7 linked regions of the Homo sapiens genome follow. The protein of the gene in region 6 purifies or fractionates together with the protein of the main gene of each other region. This does not show direct contact. Each region holds a gene or a part of one and is shown on either strand. Other genes may lie near its edges.

What was found.
Region 1: the proteins of MSMO1 (region 6) and PACC1 purify together in Homo sapiens (co-immunoprecipitation; one large-scale study listed by IntAct). This does not show direct contact.
Region 2: the proteins of MSMO1 (region 6) and VSIG1 purify together in Homo sapiens (co-immunoprecipitation; one large-scale study listed by IntAct). This does not show direct contact.
Region 3: the proteins of MSMO1 (region 6) and PDHA2 fractionate together in Homo sapiens (co-fractionation; one large-scale study listed by BioGRID). This does not show direct contact.
Region 4: the proteins of MSMO1 (region 6) and GPR107 purify together in Homo sapiens (co-immunoprecipitation; one large-scale study listed by IntAct). This does not show direct contact.
Region 5: the proteins of MSMO1 (region 6) and HTR2C purify together in Homo sapiens (co-immunoprecipitation; one large-scale study listed by IntAct). This does not show direct contact.
Region 7: the proteins of MSMO1 (region 6) and HTR1E purify together in Homo sapiens (co-immunoprecipitation; one large-scale study listed by IntAct). This does not show direct contact.

The regions. Positions count from the first base shown.
Region 1 is NC_000001.11:212,404,887-212,408,386, reverse strand, and holds part of PACC1 (proton-activated chloride channel), read left to right. Parts: intron 1-3,500. UniProt on the Homo sapiens protein: Chloride channel gated by pH that facilitates the entry of chloride ions into cells upon exposure to extracellular acidic pH. Involved in acidosis-induced cell death by mediating chloride influx and subsequent cell swelling.
Region 2 is NC_000023.11:108,043,684-108,047,864, reverse strand, and holds the start of VSIG1 (V-set and immunoglobulin domain-containing protein 1 isoform 2 precursor), read right to left. Parts: upstream 2,801-4,181; 5' UTR 2,735-2,800; coding exon 2,686-2,734; intron 1-2,685.
Region 3 is NC_000004.12:95,838,658-95,841,964, forward strand, and holds PDHA2 (pyruvate dehydrogenase E1 component subunit alpha, testis-specific form, mitochondrial precursor), read left to right. Parts: upstream 1-1,435; 5' UTR 1,436-1,493; coding exon 1,494-2,660; 3' UTR 2,661-2,807; downstream 2,808-3,307. UniProt on the Homo sapiens protein: The pyruvate dehydrogenase complex catalyzes the overall conversion of pyruvate to acetyl-CoA and CO(2), and thereby links the glycolytic pathway to the tricarboxylic cycle.
Region 4 is NC_000009.12:130,102,406-130,105,905, reverse strand, and holds part of GPR107 (protein GPR107 isoform 3 precursor), read right to left. Parts: intron 1,487-3,500; coding exon 1,356-1,486; intron 1-1,355. UniProt on the Homo sapiens protein: Has been proposed to act as a receptor for neuronostatin, a peptide derived from the somatostatin/SST precursor.
Region 5 is NC_000023.11:114,590,586-114,594,085, reverse strand, and holds part of HTR2C (5-hydroxytryptamine receptor 2C isoform a precursor), read right to left. Parts: intron 1-3,500. UniProt on the Homo sapiens protein: G-protein coupled receptor for 5-hydroxytryptamine (serotonin).
Region 6 is NC_000004.12:165,337,669-165,340,666, reverse strand, and holds part of MSMO1 (methylsterol monooxygenase 1), read right to left. Parts: intron 2,879-2,998; coding exon 2,730-2,878; intron 2,016-2,729; coding exon 1,889-2,015; intron 447-1,888; coding exon 292-446; intron 1-291. UniProt on the Homo sapiens protein: Catalyzes the three-step monooxygenation required for the demethylation of 4,4-dimethyl and 4alpha-methylsterols, which can be subsequently metabolized to cholesterol.
Region 7 is NC_000006.12:86,940,528-86,944,027, reverse strand, and holds part of HTR1E (5-hydroxytryptamine receptor 1E), read right to left. Parts: intron 1-3,500. UniProt on the Homo sapiens protein: G-protein coupled receptor for 5-hydroxytryptamine (serotonin). Also functions as a receptor for various alkaloids and psychoactive substances.

The sequences.
Region 1 (3,500 bases), on a different chromosome or scaffold from region 6:
CTCTGCCTCAAAAAAAAAAATAAAATAAAGTAAAAAAAGACTGCCTGGAAGGAAGGAGGCTGGAAGGGCAGCTAACATTTCCTGACTGCTTCTCCTGTGCCAGGATCTGTCGTACCCCATTTGCCCCATTTAATTCTCACATCAACCCTGTGAAGTGGTTATCCCCCTTTTACAGATGAGGCCCCCAACCTCAGGGAGGTTGAGTAAAGCATGGGGAGGTCATATAGCTGGTAAACACAGACTGAGTCAAACTCTGCCCAACCCTAAACTCTCTCTACTACACCAGTGGTGTTTTCTTTTTTTTTTTTTTTTTGAGATGGAGTCTCACTCTGTCACCCAGGCTGGAGTGCAGTGGCACAGTCTCGGCTCATTGCAACCTCTGCCTCCCAGGTTCAAGTGATTCTCCTGCCTCAGCCTCCCAAGTAGCTGGGACTATAGGCGTGTGCCACCACACCCAGCTACTTTTTTATTTTTAGTAGAGATGGGGTTTCACCATGTTGGCCAGGCTGGTCTCAAACCCATGACCTCAGGTGATCCGCCCACTTCAGCCTCCCAAAGTGCTGGGATTACAGGCGTGGGCCACCGCACCTGGCCTACATCAGTGGTTTATAAAAACTATTTTAAGTGGTGGTAATCCCAACACTTTGGGAGGCCAAGATGGGAGGATCTCTTGAGGCCAGGAGTTTGAGACCAGCCTTAGCAATAAAATGAGATCCTGCCTCTACCAAACAGACAAAAACCAAAAACACTCACACAAAACAATAAGCATTCTTTTATTAAAGCCCAATATGTAAAAGATAGTAGCACGGCTAATCCTCCCTCTGACATGAGGCATTGCCTCTAAAGCCCTAAGGCTCCCGGGAGAACAACTTGAAAGACCTGTATATTAGTTTTCTATTGTTTCTATAACAAATTACCAAAAACTTAGTGGCCTAAAAAAACACAAATTTATTATCTTATAGTTCTGGAGGTCAGGAGTCCAAAATGGATCTCACTGGGCTAAAATTAAGCTGTCAGCAGGCCTGAATTCCTTTCTAGGGGCTTGAGGAGAGAACTTGGTCTTTGCCTTTTCTAGCTTCTGGAGGCCTCCTGCATTCCTTGGCTTGTGGCCCCTTCCTGCAGCTTCAAAACCAGCAGTGGCTCGTCGAGTCTTTCTCACATGACATCACTCTGATGCTGACTCTCCTGCCTCCCTTTTCTGTGTTTAAAGGGCCTTTGTGATCACATCGGGCCCACCCAGGTAACCCAGGATAATCTCCCTGCTTTAAAGTCAGCTGATTAGCAACCTTAGTCCCATTTGCTGCCCTAATTCCCCTTTTCCATGCAACTTGACATATTCACAGGTTCTAAGGATTAACACTTGGACATCTTTGGGAGCCTTTATTCTGCCTACCACACCTTGCACTACCCTCTTGCCCCCAACCAGAAGTGCATAGATGGAGGCAGGAGAAAGAAGAGGAGGGAGGCCAGACTTGGAAAGATGAGGCTTGTCTTTGTGTTTCCTTTCATAGAGAAGTGCCCAGGTAAATCAGGAGGTGGCCCTAATGTCCTTGGACCTTAGCAGCCTCTCTTTTGCCTCAGATTCCTGGGGCTGCAAAGCCTGGGGTCAATCAGAATAGGAAGCCAGGCCTCAGGCAGAGCAAATTTTGGGTAGTTCCATCAACTGGCAAGAGCATTCCCACTTGCTTTGGGGTAGCCTTCCCAGTTGCTTTGGGGGAACCAGATGAGCTGGGCTCATCTCCTTTCTAAATCACAGAAGATTCAGATCTCAGGAGTCCATTTGGCTGGGTCAGTAGTGAGTTGGCTCAAATTTGATGGACTGATACACAACTCTCAGAGCTCATTTCTTGCCTCTGACTCTTCTTTTTTTTTTGAGACAGTCTCCCTGTGTCAACTAGGCTGCAGTGCAGTGGCACGATCTTGGCTCACTGCAACCACCACCTCCTGAGTTCAAGCAGTCCTCATGCCTCAGCCTCTTGAGTAGCTGGATTATAGGCACTTGCAATCATTCCTGGCTAATTTTTGTATTTTTAGTAGAGACGAGGTTTTGCCATGTTGGCCAGGCTGGTCTTGAACTCCTAACCTCAAGTGATCCACCTGCCTCAGCTTCCCAAAGTGCTGGGATTACAGGCGTGAGCCACCATGCTTGGCCCCTTTGAGTCTTCTAATAATAATAATAAAAATAATGGTAATGGTGATAGTGGTTGCCATTTTGGGGGTGCTTTCATGTACTAGGCCTGTGTAGGGCTTTAGGGCTTTTTTTTTTTTTTTTTTTTTTTTTGTGGGGTGGGACCTTGCTTTGTGGACTGGGCTACAGTACAGTGGTGTGATCATGGCTCATTTCAGCCTCCCGAGTAGTTGAGACTACAGACATGCGCCACCATACCTGGCTAATTTTTAAATTATTTTTAGAGACAAGGTCATGCAGTGTTGCCCAGGCTGGTCTCAAACTCCTGGGCTCCAGTGATCCTCCTGCCTTGACCTCCCAAAGTGCTGGAATCACAGGTGCAAGCCATTGCTCTGAGCCTATAGGGCTTTTTATATACACTTTATCCTGTAATCTTCACAGCCACTCTGTGAGGTGAACGGTTAGTCCTAGTTTATAGATGAGGAACCCAAGGCACAGACGTTAAGGAATATGCTCAGAGCTCATGAGTGGCAGGGCTCAAATCCATACCCAGAGCTGTCTCGCAAGGTGTTCTGACTCTGGCTCAGTTGTTCCTAGATGAGAGCTTTCCTGCTCCAAATTCTCCCCTCCCTGTAGCAGATCAATTAAGGACTGCTTCACTTGTTATGCCAAGTGCTGACACCACAAAGAGGGTGAGTAAGTTCCTCCAGGAACTCAGGCATATAGAGACAGAAGGCCGGTTACCCAAGGAAGAACTTGTCCCTCCTTCTGAGCCTTCCTTGACTTCCCTGATGAGGTCCCTTTCTCCCTGTGATATGCTTTCCTTTGTAACAGTTAACACAGTTGATAGGTCACATTTATTGAGTTTAATTATTCAGTTAATTGTTATCCATCCCTTGGCACTGCCCTACAAGTTCTGTGAGGCACACAGATTTTGTCTTCTCCTCCTTTACTGTAACTCCAGTGCCTAGTGTGGAGTGTAGTATGGAAGTATGACTCCATAGAAGTATGAGTACTGTAGGTACTCAGTACCTATTTGTCCTCTGGGGGAGAGCAGTGGAGATTTAGAGCAAGAGAGCCTCTCATCTAGGAGCAACTGAGCTAACTGGAATGAATGAATGAGGGCCAAAGAAATGGTAGAGTCAGGTGCTTCAAAATTAATGAAGGGGCCTGGCGTGGTGGCTCACACCTGAAGGGGCTCACACTGTGGCTCATCCCAGCACTTTGGGAGGCCAAAGCGAGCAGATCATCTGAGGTCAGGAGTTCGAGACCAGCCTGGCCAGCGTGGTGAAACCCCATCTCTACTAAAAATACCAAAAAAACTAGCCGGGGCATGGTGGCAGATGCCTGTAATCCCAGCTACTCAGGAGGC
Region 2 (4,181 bases), on a different chromosome or scaffold from region 6:
TATATGTGTATATATATATGTATATATATATGTGTATATATATGTATATATATATGTATATATATATATATATAGAGAGAGAGAGAGAGAGAGAGAGAGAATGTCTTGTATTTTGGTGGTGATTGTTCATTCATTTAATGCCTACAAGGTGGCAAACATTTTGCTTATAGAAGGATTATTATCCTCCTAATGTACCACAGCAAAATATCCCCCAAATATTCATATTTAATCTGATAGATTTGAAGTGATTTAATTTCCAGCAACTTCATATATAATAGATTCATTTTGACTTAGGAAATAATATAATCAAATGATCACTCACTTTTTTGGATTTGAGTGCAAACTCAAAGTTCAAATATATTACTCCTTTAAAATGCATAGCATATACCTCCAGAAAATGAAACCCACATTAACATATCTTTCTAAGAGGTGACTAATACATATTTCAAATACCTAAAATGATATGCATAAATTTTTTGCAGAAGTTTGATTAAAACTCGTTTTCCTGAATTAGAATTTAACCTAAGAATTCCTAAGAAGTCATTGAAAATATTTTGATTTAAGCAAAATCTGACCTGTTTAGTTATATCAAAATCAATTTTAAATATGTATGTGAAAATGATGTCTGGATGTTTGGAATTTGGGAAAGTAATTCATTCTTTCAACAAACATTTACTATGCATCCACTATGTGTTAGGCACCACGCTTAACACCAAAAAGTGACATTCTCTCCAAAACAAGTCCAGGAAGAACATCAAATTGCACATTGATGGAAACACTATCAGTTGTCCAGATCAACTGATGAACACTGCTAATGACAGGTGTAGATTACTAAAGTGATCCTTTCTCTGACTTCAATACATATGTAAGCACAGCAAACGACAATAGAGCATACCACAATTTGCTGTACTGACACTACTGCTTTGGGCCAACTAGATAATATGTGTGTAGATATATAGTGTACACTATATACCAACAAAATCAGTTATATAGTAACTTAGGAAACACACTCTGAAGTATTTATTGGTCTTGTTCTAAAAGTCACAATAAAATAAAATCCTGACATGATGCTAAACAATTTTTTTAAACAATAAAAAAGTATACAAGGAATAAACCCAATTTTTAAAATGTAATATATACACCTGCAAATAAAAGAATAATAATTCACCCAAATCTGAGTGGTAAAATTGCAGATGATTTTTATTTTATTTTAAATTTCCATATTTCCAACCTTTCTACAATGACCATGCATTACATTTATAATCAGTAAAAATTACTTGTATGTTAGGTACAGTTAAAAAAAAAAAAAACTGTTCTTAACAACCGTTCCAAACCCTGTGCCTAGTATGGGCCAGGGCAAGGCTTCACATAGGGAAACAGGTATGATCTTAGAGGGCTGATGCAGAAGGCCCAGGGGTCGACCCAACTGGCTAATGACTGGAAACCCTTTAAGAAGAGACAAAACTTCCATATCTAAAGTTACATTTAAATGAATATGCCTGGGGAGAAGGGAAAATAGGAACATGTGTTTCCAGCTCTAGGGCCTAGTTAGGTCACTGGACAAATGGAGTATTGCCTTCTGGTGATGTTTAACTCCATAAAACATCTATGCTTAAACATTTAGTAATGAACATTTAAAGAACTATTTCTAAACATGAGATCACTTTGAAAAGTAACACTTTTTTCTAATTATAAAAATAGCATAATGTTCTTCGTAGAAAACCCAGGAAGTATGAAAAGCTGGGAAATAAAATTAAAATCATCTATAATCCCATCACCCAGAGGCAACCACCATGAGCACTTCGGTATATAACCTTCTAGTAATTTATTCTAGGCATATGTGTGCATCCTGCTTTTTCACTTAATATTTTATCGTGGGTATTTTCTTATGTCATTAATACGCCTAGTAAACCTCATTCTAACCACTGCCTAATATTACTAATGGCTTGAAAATCCTGTTTTTGGATAAACAATATTATTGTATTTACTATGGACCTAACTTATAAGAACAGATGCAAAATGTATCTGATATTTGAAAACTACCCAAGGGATTTTTGGAATTAATGATCTCTCCTGGATCTAACTAACATCAGTATTTTGATTCCAAAATTGATTTTCTTCTGTTCAGATACCTAAAATCACCCATGTTGTGCACCATAAATCACTCACATATTTTGCAAAATACAGTCTTAGGATTGGAAAACCACAACTCCTTAAGAAATATTAGACAGTAAAGTACTCAGTAAATTTCTGTTCTTCCCATATGTAAGCCAGGGCAGGCCCTCCAACCCAGGCTCTGCCTGCTAGAGCAAGTCAATCACTGAGCTTAAAGGAAACACTAAAGTAAGTAAAACAGAGACAAAATTATCCCTAGCACAAAGTTTGGTTTCTGAGTAAATTCATTTTTTTCACTTTTCAAAGTAAGTAAAGTAATAAACTATATTTTTTTCTGAGAAAATTTTCATTCAGAAGCTCCATAAAACAATAATATTATGGGCTTACACCCCTAATATATCAGCATGGCATATGTTTGCTAAGCAAGAGTTCTGAAAATTAACTCATCATACTAATCACAATTCATTTGAAGTACAGGAGATGAAAATTCTATGTAAAAATGTGGAATTTTTATTTAAAAGGAAACTCTGTTTCCAATTATATTTGGTGGTTTGGAGATCCTTTCCTTACCTGCAAGGCAGCTTAGGATCAGAAAGACCTTCCAAAATGCGAACACCATTGTGTGGAGGTTAGTTGAGAGCAGCAGGTGCCAGTAGCTTGCCTGGACTAGGCTGAGTCTCAAATTGGCTTCTTCGATCACACCGAGGTTTGCCTGGCTTATCTGCTGGGCATCGCCAAGCAAACATGCCTCTTTGGGCTTACTTATTGCGTATAGACTTTTTTCAGTACAGATTTGTGTTTCTTTGAAACACTTTTCATGGGGCGTGTTTCCTTGATATATTTGCTACTGTGTTAATAATAAACCCACGCATTTAAATTATTCAAGCTCCTTGTACACAGATTCTCTAAGTCTCATTGTTTAAAATCAATCTTACTAAAACGTTGTACTTGGGCTGGGGGATATGGTTGGAAGAGAGCCTATGCAAATAAAAGCTGACAAGGCTAATTAATTTCAAATATTTCCATGAGTCTTACAGAATTGATTCACTAACCTCCTTTTACAAATTAAGTTAGTAAATTGGTACTATATCGTTTCCTGGGGAGATGGGGCTCACGGGAAGGGCACAGGGGTTATGAAGCTAAAAAGCATTCATTTCTGTGTGAACAAACTCTGGATATGTTACTCTTTTTTGAAACACTGGCAGTTGTCACTACCCTCCACCAAAACTAGCAGTAAAATGATTTACATGCTTTTGTCTGTCGGGTTAGAAACCTTATAGCACGTATTTGCTAACGTAATTTTGCAAAATCAAGTTAGTGAATACATGCTTAAAGACTTTCTTTGGAGAAGTCTGATTTTTTGGAGAATTAAGATACTCAGTAAATGCTATAGGGTTTCCTTAGAAATGGAGGTTCACCAGGAGGGCATGGGAGGCTCCACAGGTAAGGAACTTTCATGGGAACATGAACTTCTAATAGTGTTCCTATTATGCTTAAGTTACCCGGAGAAACCTAAGGACTTTCTCTGGCTCTTCCCATGTGATTTCTAAGTCCTATCATTTCCATCTCCACAGCGACTTTCAGATGTGTTCTTTCTCCAATCTGCTGCTTCCATCTTGGTCCAGGTACTCAGCTTCCCACTTTGGCCTATCATAGCAGCTTCCTAAGTGGTCTCCCTGACTTATTCCACCTTCATCCTGTGTGCCAGCCGCAGGCCAATGTTCCAGCCCTAGTGAAATATTTCCAGTAACACCATAAATGGACTCTTTCATCAAATCCAAAGTCCTTAATATGGATTCCCATTCTTCCAATATCTGATCCTCACCTCATCTGAACTTTAGCCACATTAACTCATGCCCCTGAAAAAGTATGTCAAGATTTATTGCCTCAAAGTGTTCAGTCACATGAAATGTGTACAAATTTCAAGTGATATGTTTTATGTTCCTGTCTTTAATTTACAGGAAATGTTTGACCCCATCTTACTTTAGCCATTCCAATCTCCCACTGCTTCTTAGAAAGCCATTTTGCTTCCATCATGCCTGATTCCTCCTTGCAGCCTATCCTGT
Region 3 (3,307 bases), about 69 Mb from region 6:
TATTAAAAGAAGTGCCCAAAATAACACCTGCAACTAGATATAGAGAAGGCAGCTGCTTTGAACATGTAATAGGGACATTTGGGTAAGAATTTATCATTTGCAAATAGGCAATGGATATAAAACAGAGCATGCATTAAGGTGAATGGCTTAATATTCTAAATAAAACAGGATCCCTAGTTAGGGTTGGCTTATTGGGGCACAAAATCGCCTTCCTGGTAAAAGCACAAAAAGAGAGAAATGATATGTGATCTTTGTATCCCTTGGTCTAAGGCTTCTCTTCTCTTGTGATTGAACGGTTTCCAGTGGCATAAGCAAACTCTGTTGCTCTCTTGTAGTCCAAACTGTGTATTGTTTGGTGGGTCACTTTATAAGAAGTAACACTTTCTAATGGTTACTACATAAAAAGGCACTATAAGAACATGTTTCTAGATTTCCTGGACTAAGGCTGGTCCAGTTTGATTGATATGAAAGCAAAATAAATAAATAAATAAATAAATACCACCTGAAAGTCTATGGAAACCTGCTGAAGACATTTTTATAGAAAACCAAAAAGAAAAAAAAGAGGAAATAAACAAAAGGAAGAGCAAAAGTGAAGTAGTCAGAAAATAGGGATAAAACTAGGTAAAAACAGAGATTCAGAATTATTAAACAGAGTAAGGAAAAGTGGAATGTCACAAACTACAAACTTTTTACCACAATCTGCACCTCAACCCTCTCTCCCTGCTTCCAATTTTCCCACACCAAGCAAAGTTTATTACTGGGTTTAAAGTGTTATCCTCAGGCCGAGGTTTGTATACATTTTCCCTCCCCACTTCAAGTGTCACAGGTGCTAGACGCCATCAGGATAAATGTGGCATATTATTTGAGAGTACTGACTTTTCTTTAAAAGGGGTTTTTGTTAACGTGCGTGTGCTTGTTTTGTTTTTAAAGTTAATTAAGCTACAAATAATTTACAGCTTTGTTGTTACCTTAAAATACATATGGCACATTATGGAGCAGGATAAATATTCATACCTATTTTAAAGATCAAAAACAAGACATTAAAGAAATATTGGTAGGAAGAAATACCTTTGGACTAACTCTCAGAACTCTCATGTGCCTTAGGGACTGAGTTTGTTCCTTTCTTCTATTTGATACGCTTGTCGGGAAAGCTTGAGATACAGTGCTCCAGGGTTTAACAGGGAAAAGGGACTCAGATTATTGAGGTTCAGCAATGACGGCGATTAGGATGCCCTGTAGTTTGCCCAAGTCCTCCAGAAAAGGAAATCACTTTTAGTCTTCATTTTACAGCTGGCAGGCACTGTACAAATCAGTCAGCTCAGGCTGCGTGGCCCATGTCCCAGTGCTGTGCAGGACCTGCCTCTATCACCCGTGTGCACTGCCCGGATGGTGCCAAGCGCATTGGAGCACCGGAAGGAGACGCGGAGCCGAGGCCAGGCCTTCCGGCGGTCGTTACGGGACGCCGCTGCCATCTACAGCACTCCGTGAAGAATATGCTGGCCGCCTTCATCTCCCGCGTGTTGAGGCGAGTTGCCCAGAAATCAGCTCGCAGAGTGCTGGTGGCATCCCGTAACTCCTCAAATGACGCTACATTTGAAATTAAGAAATGTGATCTTTATCTGTTGGAAGAGGGTCCCCCTGTCACTACAGTGCTCACTAGGGCGGAGGGGCTTAAATACTACAGGATGATGCTGACTGTTCGCCGCATGGAATTGAAGGCAGATCAGCTGTACAAACAGAAATTCATTCGCGGTTTCTGTCACCTGTGCGATGGTCAGGAAGCTTGTTGCGTGGGCCTTGAGGCCGGCATAAACCCCTCGGATCACGTCATTACATCCTATAGGGCTCATGGTGTGTGCTATACTCGGGGACTTTCTGTCCGATCCATTCTCGCAGAGCTGACGGGAAGAAGAGGAGGTTGTGCTAAAGGAAAAGGAGGATCGATGCATATGTATACCAAGAACTTCTATGGGGGCAATGGCATCGTCGGTGCACAGGGCCCCCTGGGCGCTGGCATTGCTCTGGCCTGTAAATATAAAGGAAACGATGAGATCTGTTTGACTTTATATGGGGATGGCGCTGCGAATCAGGGGCAGATAGCCGAAGCTTTCAATATGGCAGCTTTATGGAAATTACCTTGTGTTTTCATCTGTGAGAATAACCTATATGGAATGGGAACATCTACTGAGAGAGCAGCAGCCAGCCCTGATTACTACAAGAGGGGCAATTTTATCCCTGGGCTAAAGGTCGATGGAATGGATGTTCTGTGTGTTCGTGAGGCAACAAAATTTGCAGCTAACTACTGTAGATCTGGAAAGGGGCCCATACTGATGGAGCTGCAAACCTACCGTTATCATGGACACAGTATGAGTGATCCTGGAGTCAGTTATCGTACACGAGAAGAAATTCAGGAAGTAAGAAGTAAGAGGGATCCTATAATAATTCTCCAAGATAGAATGGTAAACAGCAAGCTCGCCACTGTGGAAGAATTAAAGGAAATTGGGGCTGAGGTGAGGAAAGAAATTGATGATGCTGCCCAGTTTGCTACCACTGATCCTGAGCCACATTTGGAAGAATTAGGCCATCACATCTACAGCAGTGATTCATCTTTTGAAGTTCGTGGTGCAAATCCATGGATCAAGTTTAAGTCCGTCAGTTAAAGGGAGGCTACGTGTGAATTTATCATCAGTCTCTCAATGGAATGTTCATGGTCAAATTTAAGAAACTGTGTTCTCAACTCAAGGAGGAATAAAACTCATAAAACAAAAGCCTTGTAAGCATTTATTAAAAGAGATTATTAAAAGAGATTGAAAGACATGCATTCAATAAAAGTGATATTATATTCAATTATACTGTATATTTTTGCATTAAAAGATACTATATAGGTAACAATTTAGTGTGAATATCTTAAAGATTATTTTGAACTTATACAAGTCTAAAATAGGAAAAGGAGATTATTTAACTTCCCAAACTGTTTGTCATAACAGTTCCATTTGATTTAGCTTTATACTATTTTAATGCATTCTCTTCTTTAAAAGAAAGTTGTTTCCTGCTTCCCCTGCCATGGGTTTCTATGTAGAATCACCATCCTGAGGTAAGGAGATTATTTCAAGCTACTCAGGACACCTATGGATATGTAACCATTTACTTGAATTACCTAATAACGAATACAGTTTAGTGTAACAGTGTGCGCATGCGCACACCCACACACGTGGTGCTGAAGTTTGTTAACACTGACCGTTTTTCCAATAATATATGATATTTAACAGGGCAGGGGAGGAAGAACAAGGATTTTTTTTTTTCATAT
Region 4 (3,500 bases), on a different chromosome or scaffold from region 6:
GGAAGATCACTTGAACCCAGGAGTTTGAGACCAGCCTGGGCAACATGGCAAAACCCTGTCTACAAAAAATTGGCTGGGTATGGTAGTGTGTGCCTGTGGTCCCAGCTACCCAGGAGGCTGAGGTGGGAGCATCATTCATACTCTCTTCTATGCTGGTAGCTGTCTGCTGAACTGATACGAGATCATGTGTGATGTATGATGGAATGAGGGTGAAGAGTGAATCTAACTGGCTGGAATGAGAAGTACTCTCCATTTGCACCATGTTATAAATAATGAGAGTAACTGACAAACCCCAGGATCCTCAAAAATATTAATTTACTGGATGGGGCATTGCAATAAGAAGCACCTCAGCCAGCTGCGGTGACTCATGCCTATAATCCCAGCACTTTGGGAGGACAAGGCAAGTGGATCACCGGAGGTCAGGAGTTTGAGACCAGCCTGGCCAAAATGGCGAAACCCTGTCTCTACTAAAAATACAAAAAAAATTAGCCAGGCATGGTGACACGCACCTGTAATCCCAGCTACTCAGGAGGCTGAGGCAGGAGAATCACTTGAACCCAGGAGGCAGAGGTTGCAGTGGGCCGAGATTGAGCCATTGCACTCCACCCTGGGCAACAAGAGCGAAACTCCATCTCGGGTTAAAAAAAAAAAAAAGAAGCACTTGTAATGGAAGGCCGGGGTGAATCTATTTTCTTTAAAATTTATTTCAAAAGAATTGCATTCCAATAGCCATGGAATTATATCACTAAGGGTAAAGTGTTTTATTGCTGCTAGCCTTCTGAATTTCTACCACTCTGCATGTGATTTAATAAGGATATTTTCTCATCAACCACTGACTTGACACTAACACTTCTTTACACAGACCCAATGCACAATCTGTGCATCTAAACACTGCCATTTCCAGGAATGGAGCAATCCATTCTGAAAACATCAAAAATGTTTGTGTGCTGAGAACTATCACTAGTTTTATGTTAATGAACTTCCTCATTTTCCACCTAAGTTGGCAAGAACTGGCTGTTTATGGGATTTCTCCAACTCCCTACCACCACCACAAATTCAGGCTGCTACTTTAAGTTACTACCAAGTTCTCATTTCCCAATTCCTCTCTATTGTCTTAGAACTCTGTTAAATGCCAGCTCATGGTGACGGATTAGCTCTGCCAGAATACCCCGAGTAACTGGAAAAAGACACAGGGTTCTGCCCCTGGAGGCTGATTCAGGTCAGTCTGGGACTCAGAAAGCTGTACTTTTAAACACACGTCCCATGTGACTGAGATCAGTTTGGGAATGGCCAGTTCAGCTATTGGGCTTGACAGCCAAGCTGTCATGTGGCCTCCCTCCCTGTGAGCTACTCACCACACCACTGGGAAGAGGATGGCACCACAACACAACAGGTCGACCAGAAATAGAGAGTCCTTCCACAAGCCATATTCAGTCGTGCCCTCCTCGGTGGACTCTATGATGATGTAGGCTACATTTGCCAGGACCTACAGACATGAGAAGTTGCTGAGGCCCCAAAGCATGGGTGGACTGTTATGATGCTAGCAGCCCCAATGTGGGGTGTACACCTTGGCCTCCAGACCCACGATCTGCGACCACAGCATTCTTTCCAGTCCCACGTGCTCTTCCAGAACTCTGCCACTCCGCTATCAAGGAGAGTCTCTATGCCACCCCCCTGAATCTGCACAGGCCGTAATTGCTCTAATACAGTAAGATGGAAGTACTGCTGTGTGATTTCCAAGGTAGATAAAGCTTCCACCCAGCTCTCTTGGGACCTTTGGAGCCCTAAGCCTTCTTGTAAGAAGTCTGGCTACCCTGAAACTACCCTGCTGTACAGACCATGCAGAGATGGAAAGGCCCCCCCAGGAGCCCCGGCTGTCCCAGTCCCCACCTGAGCAAGCTTCTCAGCCCAGAAGACAGATGCGAGTGGAGACTTCAAGATGCTCCCAGCCATGGTGTGACTATGACCACAAGACCCAAGTCAGACCTACCCAGCTAGCCACTCTTGAATTCCTAACCCACAGAAACTGAGAGAGAGAATGACGGGTTATTGTCGTTTTAAGTCGCTGAGTTTTGGGGTGATTTGTTATGCAGCAGTAGATAACAGGGACACTTTGCTTTTCAGGTACCCCAAACCCAGTGGAGTCACTCAGGTGCTGGACTGCTGGATAGGTGGCACTTAACACCCTATTTAGCCACAATGCCCATACTTTTCAGGCCATGGTGCTCAGTGACAATAACTCATCTAAGTGCCAGACAATGGAACTGTGTTTTCAGAGACCAGAGGGTGAGCATGGCTGATTCCAGCCCTACAGCCTCATATACTCAGGCCCACTATTAAGCTCTGTACTCAGGCCCGTTATTAGGCTCTTAGCATAAGTCTTTATAAAAAGTCTTTCCACTGGCTAAACTGAGATGCCACAGAGCATAAGGGAAATTTACCACTTATAATACATCCTTTTGAAGATTACCACTGGGAATGGATGCAGAGGTTATCATTCCACCTATATACCCCATGAGAAGTCCCTGGTCCCAAATCTCTGCCTGACTTGCTGTAAAAGGTAATCCTCCACACTTTGCATGTAAAATCTGTAGTGCTATTATTTAGGAAGTCTCTAAGTTTAATTTCTCTTTCTATACAGGACTTAGAATCAAATTATCCGAAATTTCATTTAAAACTAATGCAAAAATTATCTGAAATTTCAGCCTCTCCAATGACCCCCAGCTTCTGGGTCCTTCCCTGTCCCACACTGCTCGTGAAGCCCTGTCTATCCAAAACACTAGCATCTGTGGCTCCATCTAAAAAGACAAAGTAGGGCTGGGTGCGGTGGCTCATACCCATAATCCCAGAAATTTGGGGAGCCAAGGCAGAAGGATTGCTTGAGCCCAGGAGTTTGACACCAGCCTGGGCAAAATAGTGAGACACGGCCTCTAATTAAAAAAAAAAAATTAAAAATTAGTCAGGTGTGATGGTGTACGTCTGTGGTCTCAGCTACTCGGGAGACTGAGGCAGGAGGATCGCCTGAGCCCAGGAGTTTAGGGCTGCAGTGAGCCATGATCACCACTGTACTCCAGCCCGGGCGACAGAGTGAGACCCTGTCTAAAAGTAAGAGGACAAAGTAGAAAACAAAGGCTTTCACATCTTAAATTCAAAATTCCATTTTGTCCTTAATTCACACACTGCATGAGAGACAGAATGTTCCCAGTGTTGAACAACGTGCCAAGAGTGTTCCTGAAACACCATTTTGCAGGGACATCATCTACTCCTTACTTAGAAACTTTCTGTCACTGCCCATGGCCAAAAGGAAGCAGTTTTAACTTTTCAGGCTGACATTTAAGGCCCTCCCAGACTAGTTCTATTGTCTAAATACTCATGACTTTCTTAATTTGTTAAATGTCCTTATCTTCTCAGACTGACATTCCATGGAACTCTGTGTGTCTGTCTTTCAGGGAAGCCCAGGACGGGCTTCCTGGAAGGCTATGCCCCACGACAGCCTGGTT
Region 5 (3,500 bases), on a different chromosome or scaffold from region 6:
TAATAGCCAAAGATATCTTAAATTTACTTTAAATAACAAAAGACAAAAAGAAGACATGTCTTCAATCACTCAGAAATCTTTAAGACATGAATCATTTCAAATGTAGGGCACTGGAGTGAATGGAAAATGACAAGTTAGAGACCTGAAGTGAATATTGACTTGAGATTTTATAAGAATTACTTAAGTAGCTGAAGAGTCATAACCATTAATCTTCTGGGGCATAAAATCAACTACCTGAGTATTATTATTTGAAGTGGATTTTCAGAATTAGAAACTGTTGATATTTTCTTAAAGTTGTAGCATTTGAAATTATCTCAGTAACCATCCAGTCTGATTTTCTCTTTTGGCGGAGGAGGACATAGAGGCTTATAACAGACTAGAACTTAGGTTCTAGTTAACTCCAAATTTGCACTATAAATACCTTTCCCACAGTGCTTGTGTCTTTTTGTATATTAATTATTCAGCAAATATATGTTGAGAGAAGCCACAATATGTAATGATATATGCAAACGGTAGCTGGGGAGTATAAACATGAATAAATTATAATCTTTGTTCCATGTGAATTTATAATCCAGTAGGAAAGATAAGACTCAAATTTAAAAGTGACGTGATGCATGTAAAACCTTTAACACCAGGCCTGCCTCTAAAGTATAAGTTAAAAACCAAGTAATAAAAATAAAATGCGATAGAAGCCAGGTGCAGTGGCATGCACCTGTGGTCCCAGCTAATCAGGAGGCTGAGGCAGTAGGTTCGCTTGAGCCCAGGAGTTCAAGGTCAGCTTTGGCAACATAGCAAGACTCCATATCTAAGGAAAAAACAATGTAATACAATGTGCTAAGTGCCATGTAAGAGGTGCAAACAATTATGTCTATTTTCTTAAAATTTAAAATGGAAATTCTGGTGTTCTTAAGTATGTGAGTGTAACCTAGATGACTTTTTAAAATATGGCCAGTAGTCTTTTTACACTGCACACACAAAATTATAACACATTTGCATTCTAAGCATTGCTTCTTGGCTTTATAGTCTGTATGATATCCTTCTTCCTCACCCCCTCCAATCAAACCGTACATCTTTCTCTGAATTAAGCATGAGGATTTGTCTGCAGTCATTTCCTAATGTTCCCTGTTAGCTGAAGCTCATCACTTCATAACCCACTTTAGAGTCCCTGGGTTTCATTCTGATATTCAGCAGCTACTTTGGTAGCTGACAACTTTTAGCCTTATCTATGCTCTGCCCAGGAATTGGGTAGCATTATTTGGTGCCATTGTAAAGAGAGTGGGAGATGTGCAGAGTTCAAACATGAGATAGGGAGTTGTCTGAAATGAGCTTTCAATTACTAACCCTAAGAGTCTATAATCACAATGGAATTTAAAAGGTGGCACATTTGAACAACATTTTTCAGAAATAATTCTGAAGCTGTATTAATGGACTGAAATGGGGAATAATTAAGAAAAGTTATCCACGAATGAATCCAAGGTAGGAAGGACAAGCATTATTTCAATTATCATAAGAAATTAAAGAAATCTGGGAGAAGGGATAGAGTGTTTTTTTAATAATTTCTCACTCTATAAGTGTTGTGATAAATGTATTCTGTATTATACTAGAGAAACAAATGAACTTTTATTTGATCTTGTTGCTTCATTCTCAATCAAGAGACTCAGAATATCCACTATGTTTGTACAAATTTGGCTGCCTTTCTGAAAATGGCACTTACCCAAAGTAAAGTATAAATCTATGGTAAAAATTCAAATTACTTTATAACAATGTATTATCTTCTCAGCATTCAAATGTTTTTCACTTTTAAATTCTGAATTAGGTTGGTGCAAAAGTAATTGCGGTGAAAACCACAATGGTGAAAACTACAATTACTTTTGAACCAACCTAATAAAATTTGTGGGAGTTTTCTCCATGTTCTCTTCCCCATTTTATATATTATACAATTTGTGACTCTATATTTGTAACCTTAGGGAAGTCAGTCATATAACCTCAGTGGTTTCTGTATTCTGTATCTGTTTATAACAAAGAGGTTAGTTTGAAGGATCCTTACAGAAAGATTACCTAGTATAAGGCTCTCATTTTGGAGTTGTGGAAACTGAGGCCTGAGTTAAGCAAATGACTGGACCATTTTTTTCTTCATTCATCCTGAGTGAGAGAGTAGGAAAGAGAGAAATCAATGTTGCCTATACCATAAATTGCAAAACTACATTATTACATTGAATTGCCTTTACTGTCTAACAGTACTTATTTGTTTCCTTAGGGAAGTATTGTAGAATATGTTTTTCACCTCATTAGCATCCAACAAAGTGTTAAATGTACATTAAGCCCTCAACTGAAATTCTCTTGCTGAATTTCAACTAAGCCATTGCTGAAATTCCATAATTCTTACAGGCTTTTCTTTATTCATCTTCATCTTACAGTTCACTAATTTGGCAGATAAATATGGACAGTGAATTTTATAGATTTACTTACGTGAAATTTAGGAAATTGGCTGAGGTTTGGTAGTAGAAGCAGGAAAATTTGACACAGACAGTTACCCAGTGAGAGGTGGGTAATAATCCTCCAAACTAAAGAATCTGCCCTTGCTAACTTAAATAATACTTTGGAGAGCAAGTCATTGTATCAATGAATAGTCATTTGGGCGCATAATTCTACCATACAAGTTCTTTTCCATTTACATAGTGATTTTAAAAATAGATATAGAGGTATGATGAAATGACTAAATAAATAAATCTATTGAGAAACCAGCTCATTTCTGCTTTTTCAAAATGAAGTTTCAAAAAATATTTGTTGGAGAGACACCAGATCTTCCTTGTTTTACTTCCTTCAAGAATGAAGTAATCAACTTCTTTCTGAATCTATTTTAGACTAACATTACATTTAAAACTAAAAGATACAGGCCTATTAGACCTCTGGGAGTCATTGACCAACCAAAAATGCTAGAACAATCTACCCACAAGCCACAAAGCATTAAATTAACTGTTTAATTAAGATAAAAAAAACTAATAGATTCATGACGTGATCACTCAGAGCAATTCATTAATACTAATGTCTGATTTCCTTTAACAGTATAAAAAGGAAGGAAATAAAGCTCTTATTTACAAGTTTATTTGCTGCAAAGGCATTTAGGAATTGCTATTTTAAAAAGAAAACTTGCGCTTCTTTCTGAGCCATCAACCCATACCGCAAAATGGGTGCAGAACTCAGTTTGCTAATAAAAAGAGAATTCTATAGCCATGCATGTGGTCAATGAAATGGTCTCTCTCTCATATATGTATATATAATGGTGTATTTCACTGTGAAATGGAAAATAAAACAGTGTGGTAGGGCTAAGCTTTAGCTAAACTAATTTAAGAAGATTTATAATATTTTTATTGCCCTAAAATATGTTCAGAGAAATTACCTGAAATCATTTCAGGGGAAACTGTTATTCTGTTAGATGCCTTGAATTCTTGAATATTATTGTGCAGATGTGCTAAAAATTCTATTTTAGCTCTTCCTTC
Region 6 (2,998 bases):
TTTTTCAAATATGAGTTAAGTTTAGGTTTATTACAGAAGGATAAGGAAATTGCTGGTCCTGAATATATACTTGCCCTAATAACACATTATCACTATAAAAATTATAACAGCATAGGCTAGAATGTAAAAACATCTATTATTTAAACTTTTATCCAACAGTTATGTTTTCTTAATATAACATTAAGAAGATTAACTTCTCCTATTAGTCTCCTTAGAAATATGATAATCTTATGGCCATGAAAATAAATATATTTCATTATGCTTTATACCTGAACAGAAATTAATACTCACCTATGGACATCAATAGTTTCTAATAAACGAATGGTCACCCATGCCCAAAGAAGAATTACATGATCACACAAAAGCACGATTCCAATGAAAAATCCAGTTCCAAGAATTAGAGTCTCCAAAGGATGTGCATATTCAGCTTCCATTCCAAATGGAGCCTAAGACAAACAGATAAGAAATTCTTAATTTCTTAGCTATTGTGATGGTCAATTTTATGTGTCAACTTGGCTAGGCTATGATATCCAACTGTTTGATTAAATACCAGTCTAGATGTTGTTGTGAAGGTATTTTTTAGATGTTGTTAACATTTAAATCAGTAGACTGAGTAAAGGTGATTACCCTTCATAATGAGGGTGGGCTTCATCCAATCATTTGAAGGCCTTCAGGATAAAAGGCTGAGGTTTCCTGAAGAAGGATTCTCGAGACTGCAACACTGAAACCCTGCCTGAGTTTCCAACTTGCTGCTCCATGGAATTTGGACCCAAGGCTGCAACAATTCTTACCTGGATTTCTAGTCTGTAGCCTGCTTTACAGATTTCAGACTTGACAGCCGCACACTTGCATGAGCTGATTCCTTAAAATAAATCTCTCTCTGCATATATATACCCCAATGATTCTGCTTCACTGGAGACTTCACTAATATATATATCCTATTTATGCATAAAGTTTTACAAAGTTATATTGATTCTATATGTAGTGATGATTTATCTAGTCATACACTTATAAATAATACTAGCAATTCTCAATAAAAATACCTTACTCCACATCAAAAGTCTAGGGATATAAAATCTTGCTGTCTTTGATGGTTTAAGATAAAGGCATTAAATAATTGACTTGAACTCTAATTTTGACTTAAGTATTTATATTTGTTCTTCTAATAAAGAGAGGCTTGATTTGGCACACCATGTAATCACGGTCAATGCAAAACATACTCACATAACCAGTTGACAAAGCTACATCAAAGCAATTCTAATTGGCCGGGCATGGTGGCTCACGCCTGTAATCCCAGCACTTTGCGAGTCCAAGGCGGGTGGATCACCTGAGGTCAGGAGTTCGAGACCAGCCTGACCAACATAGTGAAATCCTGTCTCTACTAAAAATACAAAATTAGCCACGCGTGGTGACGCATGCCTGTAATCCCAGCTACCTGAAAGGCTGAGGCAGGAGAATTGCTTGAACCCAGGAGGTGAAGGTTGCAGTGAGCTGAGATCATGCCATTGCAGTCCAGCCTGGGCAACAAGAGCAAAACTCTATCTCAAAAAAAAAAAAAAAAAAAAAAAAAGCAGTGCTCATAGAAGTTACTGTTTTTGTGGGAGTTAGCAATGTGAGGATCTAGCTGTGCCAGTGTAGCACTGTCCACAAGGATGGAAGTCCGAACTTTCATATAATATTTTTCTTTCAGATCTCAATTTACCATGAAATTTAAATAATGAAAACAATGTGTAGAAATGGCTTGTTTGTATGTGTGTGTATTGTTCTTAATAATCATGCCAAAGGAAAAGAAAATAAAAACGTCACCAACAATTTTAGAAAAATGCTCAGGCAATTAAAATAGACATTTTGCCTCTAACAGAAAGAATTAAATATAACTCTCACATACCTGAAACTCATGATGAACTTTATGAATATACTTGTATATTCTTTTGTGGTGTAAGAGTCTATGCAGAAAATAGTGCCAAGTATCTTCAATGACTGCACAACCAAAGCATCTTGCCAAAAGAAAATACCTTTAAGATAAAAATGTTGTAATGTGTAAGAAATAATTTTTACTTAAACTATCCAGACTTTTAGTTGGGATCACTGCTTGAGACATTACATAAAACCACCCACCCACTTACCAGGTTGACCTAATTGGATATATTCATAAATAAATTCTCAAAACCACCAGATACAGCTACATAACTTGATATAAGGTTAAAGAGACTGCCCATTAGACCAATTTCATTTCATTACAATGTTCACACAACTTGCCTCATGACACTTTTCTCAAGAGATATCCGTTAAGTGACGCATGAGTATATATATGTGTGTGTATATATATATGTGTGTATATATATATATATATATATATACACATACATATTTTTGTTCATGTAAACACAATTTCTATAAACCTCATAAATGATTCTCATATATTTCATTCATTTTAAAATTAAAATGTAATATATTTTTGTCAACATAAGCACTTATACATGTATATAAACATACAAAAGACGTTATGGAAACTTCTGATACTAGAAGCTCACCTTCCAATAAAATATTTAAAAGATGTAAAAATGGAAACATTTTAAGATTTTACTGTGGTTTACTTTTCTACTATTTATTTACTTCCAAAGTTTAGAACAAACATTAACTAAAATTAAGAAAACGGGTAAACATTAAGTATAACTTAACTGAATAAGCCACAATTGGGTGTAAAAGCCAAATTTTTATCTACGTACCATCTTGGCATTCTTTCCCAATCATAAGGAATATTGAAATACTCTGTAAAATAATAGGTTCCACAAATCAAAGGCAGCTGGATACAGAAGTGATTAAAGAGAAGAACTTTGAAACACTTCCATTGGTTTTCCCATGTCTCTGGCTTATCCTACGAAGAAAAATCACAATATCTAATATTAGTCTCTGCTATCAGAGTTTAACTTGACCTAATTTGTTCTCTGTTTATGTTGGACCTTAATTCTACGTCAGTTATGTTAACTTTATATAA
Region 7 (3,500 bases), on a different chromosome or scaffold from region 6:
TGTCAACAGCCACGTGAGCGAGCTTGGAAGCGTTACCTTTCCCCAGTTGAGCCTTGAGATGTCTGCAGTCTCGGCTGAAACTTTGCAGCCTGTGAGTGACAGACCTGAGCCAGAGGACCTAGCTAAGCCATACCCAGATTCCCAACCCATGGAACTATGATCATAGAGATAATAAAAATCTGTTGCTTTAAGCCATTAGGTTTTGGGGTAATTTATTATTTAGCAATAATGAATACACACATTTAATCCTCATAAATAGCCCTATGACATAGTACTGTTATGTGAGCCCCAACAAATGAGGAAACTGAGGTTTAGAGATGTGAAAGCAGTTAATGAATGGCAGAGCTGGGATATGAACCTGGCTTTCTGGACTCGAGAGCTTGGGCTTGAGCCCCATGCTGTGTTACCCCCTAGTAGTATAACACAAGGTGCAGTTTGACATCACAGGTGACAATGAATCACAATAGCATATTCTGTTTTGAGAAACTTCCCTGAAAGGAGGCTGAGGTAGACAGGGCATGTATTATTGTCCCCATTGTAACGATGACAGACCATGCAGCTCATACAGCCAAGAGAATGGGGTATTAACCCAGGCCTTCTGACCCCAGGTCCGTAGAGTTGGGCCTGTGCTTCACTGCCACGCTGGCACTGTGGCACTCACTGTACATTCAGCAAGCCCTGAGGAAGCTGGCGGGAGCTTAGCTGACATGCACAGGGTAGGTCAGTTTGTTCTCTGGAGAGCATTCCATGAGATGCAAATATCTTCACACAGGCCTGGGTTAATACCCCATCCTCTTGGCTGTGTGTAGACCCTCTCACCCTTAGATTCAGACTCATTTTACTAAACAGGCAAAACATAGCTACAAATTTCATGTATTTTAATATAACAGGACTATGTGGTAATAGTAACAATACTATGTAATCATTAACTGTTAATTAAATGCATGCTAATGGTACATAAGTCTGAGAAAGGGTACTCAGTACACTTAATGCAATGTGAGAGATTATCTCAAAGCCAATGGGACCCGGCTGGACATCTTTTGTGCTGGAGAAATTACTCCATCTGCATCACAAGAGCATTGCCTCTGTCACCAAGCTGAAAGTAATCAAGTCTTGTGAGCTTTGAGACTTTTGCTTCCTCTAAAGTCATTTTTCATCCCTTCTTGGTAAGATGCTTCATTTATATGTAAGTCACCAAACCCTGGGGTCAGTACAGTCTGGTTCTCCAATGCCTCGGACATAAAGTAAAACCTTGATGGTCTTAGAAACAGGCTTACTGTATTGCAGAGAGGGTGAGGAGATTACATTGTTTTACCAGTTTACAATCTATGAAATAAAATATGCTTGCCAATATGAATGCATCTTGTAAATGATGTATTTGCTAATTATAAATTAAGTTACATATTTAATCCTTGATTTTTTAGAGCATTGTGTAAGGAATTGAATTAGGTTCAGAAGGAAAGAATGGTAAGAAAGTTAAAATGGCTCAAATGAAAGCATAATAAAAGAGGAAATCATGCTTCTTTCTTTGAATGTTAAATTATGATGAACTATATGGTAGGATAGTGTTTATGGATGACTGTATATCAAATTCTTGTGTTAGGTAACAAATACTTCCTTGACTAGGGCAGAGTTCAACATTAAAATTAGGACTATGTAATAAAGTTTAAAATGTAAGGTACTTAAGTAAGTATACAATTCTTGTTTACTTACAGGAAAGAATTAATTACAATGACAAACTACACTGTCAGAAATCATATAAGGATAAATATTACTGAATTCAGAGGGATGAGTTTGGAATGTGGAATCCTTTTCTGTAGGTTCTTCTTCCTCCATCTTCCTCAGATGAGGTGGGCTTTCCTTTCCCATTTTTCTTGGATGCTAACAGCATCTTTTATACCTCTCAGGCATGTTTTCTGCCCAACAGTGTACAAGCGTAATATAAATCCCTATGATTATATTGTCGCTAACCAGGCAAGCTATTGTAGCTAGCCACCTTACTGGGTTCTCTTATTCTTTCTAATGGCATTTTTATGTATCCCCTTGAATTTTCCTAGTAGCTAATTATTTAATCTGTCATTAATAATAAAACTTTTCCCTGACCAATATTTATAACACTTCCCTCCTTCCCTCCTTCCCTTCCTTCCTTCCTTCCTTCCTTTCTTCTTTCCTTCCTTCATTCCTTCCTTCCTTGCTCCCTTCCTCCCTCCCTAATGGGGTCATTAGGAGGATCTGAGAGTTTTAGAACTGCTAGCTGCTGCTGCTGGTAGCTATTTCTCAAAATATTTTCTTCTTGCTATAAAATGCTTTCCTTCTCATACCAGATTTCATAAAGACCTTCCATCTGGTCTGCACTGATAACTAGAATCCAGAGATGCTCATTCCTCTTACAACTTGTAGTTTAAAATGATCCAGATGCAGAAGGATTAGGTTTCATAGCTTCTTCTAAAGGATTTTGTCTTCCTAATCCTACAACTGCATGTGTTGAGAATTGATCAGCATGAGAGAGTGCTAACAATAAACCTATTAAAGTGTCCAGTTTTTCATTTGACGTGTTTTAGGGGAATACAACAATGGGATCAAAACACTGACATCTATTCAGGTAAGGACTGCAGTAAACCAGATAATCCACAGTGCATGAGACAAAATAAGAGAACTAAAAATGAAAGACAAAATTATAGTCAATCTGTATTAGAAAGAGGGTTCTCAAGAATTTTATCAATTTGTTGTGATCCGGGAATATGCCAATTGATTGAGTGATCTCTATAAATTCTGGTTCTCAGTTTCTTAATCCACAAAATGTGGGAACGAATAAAAAGTAGCTGGGATTTTGATGAAAGTCCTTTCATCACCAGGAAGATGAACTTTGGTAAGTTGACTGACCTAAGCCCCAAATTTTAGGGGCCACAATACTGGTTCTAGAAAATGATTCAGGGAGGAGAAAACAAGAGAGAAGTAAGTCACTCTAAAGTGCTGCTGCCCCATTTCTCTTCCCTGTTCATCTGTCCCCTCGTCACTTGTGACGGCACACTCATCTTCAATGTTTCCCTGGGGTTTATGTTCATATAATTTCACATGTAATAAAAATCTGGTAGGTGCAGAAGAAAGGAGCATAAAGCATGAGATGCTAAACTCACCTCTGCCTTGAGATGGCCTTGATAATTTACGGCATAAAAAGTAAGTTCCTATTTGGTAGAAATTCAGCTTTTGATCAGTCTCAAGCTTATTTTTTTGTGTAAATAAGCTTGTAGAAATAGAGGGAATGCTTTCCCACATTAGAGCGTTAGATTTGATCTTTCACTTTTAAAGGGTAGTGCAGAAATAGAATTCCAGGGTGGGCAATCAAAACAAACATGAAAAAAATGATCTGTGTGTAAAAGTGAGATGTAGGGAATTAGACTTGAGTAATGAGAAGATGACACAAAAGTTCAGGGCCTGAGGCTTTCTGCAAAGAGACCTACTTTCTTTTTCTTTCTTTTCTTTTCTTTTTTTGAGACAAG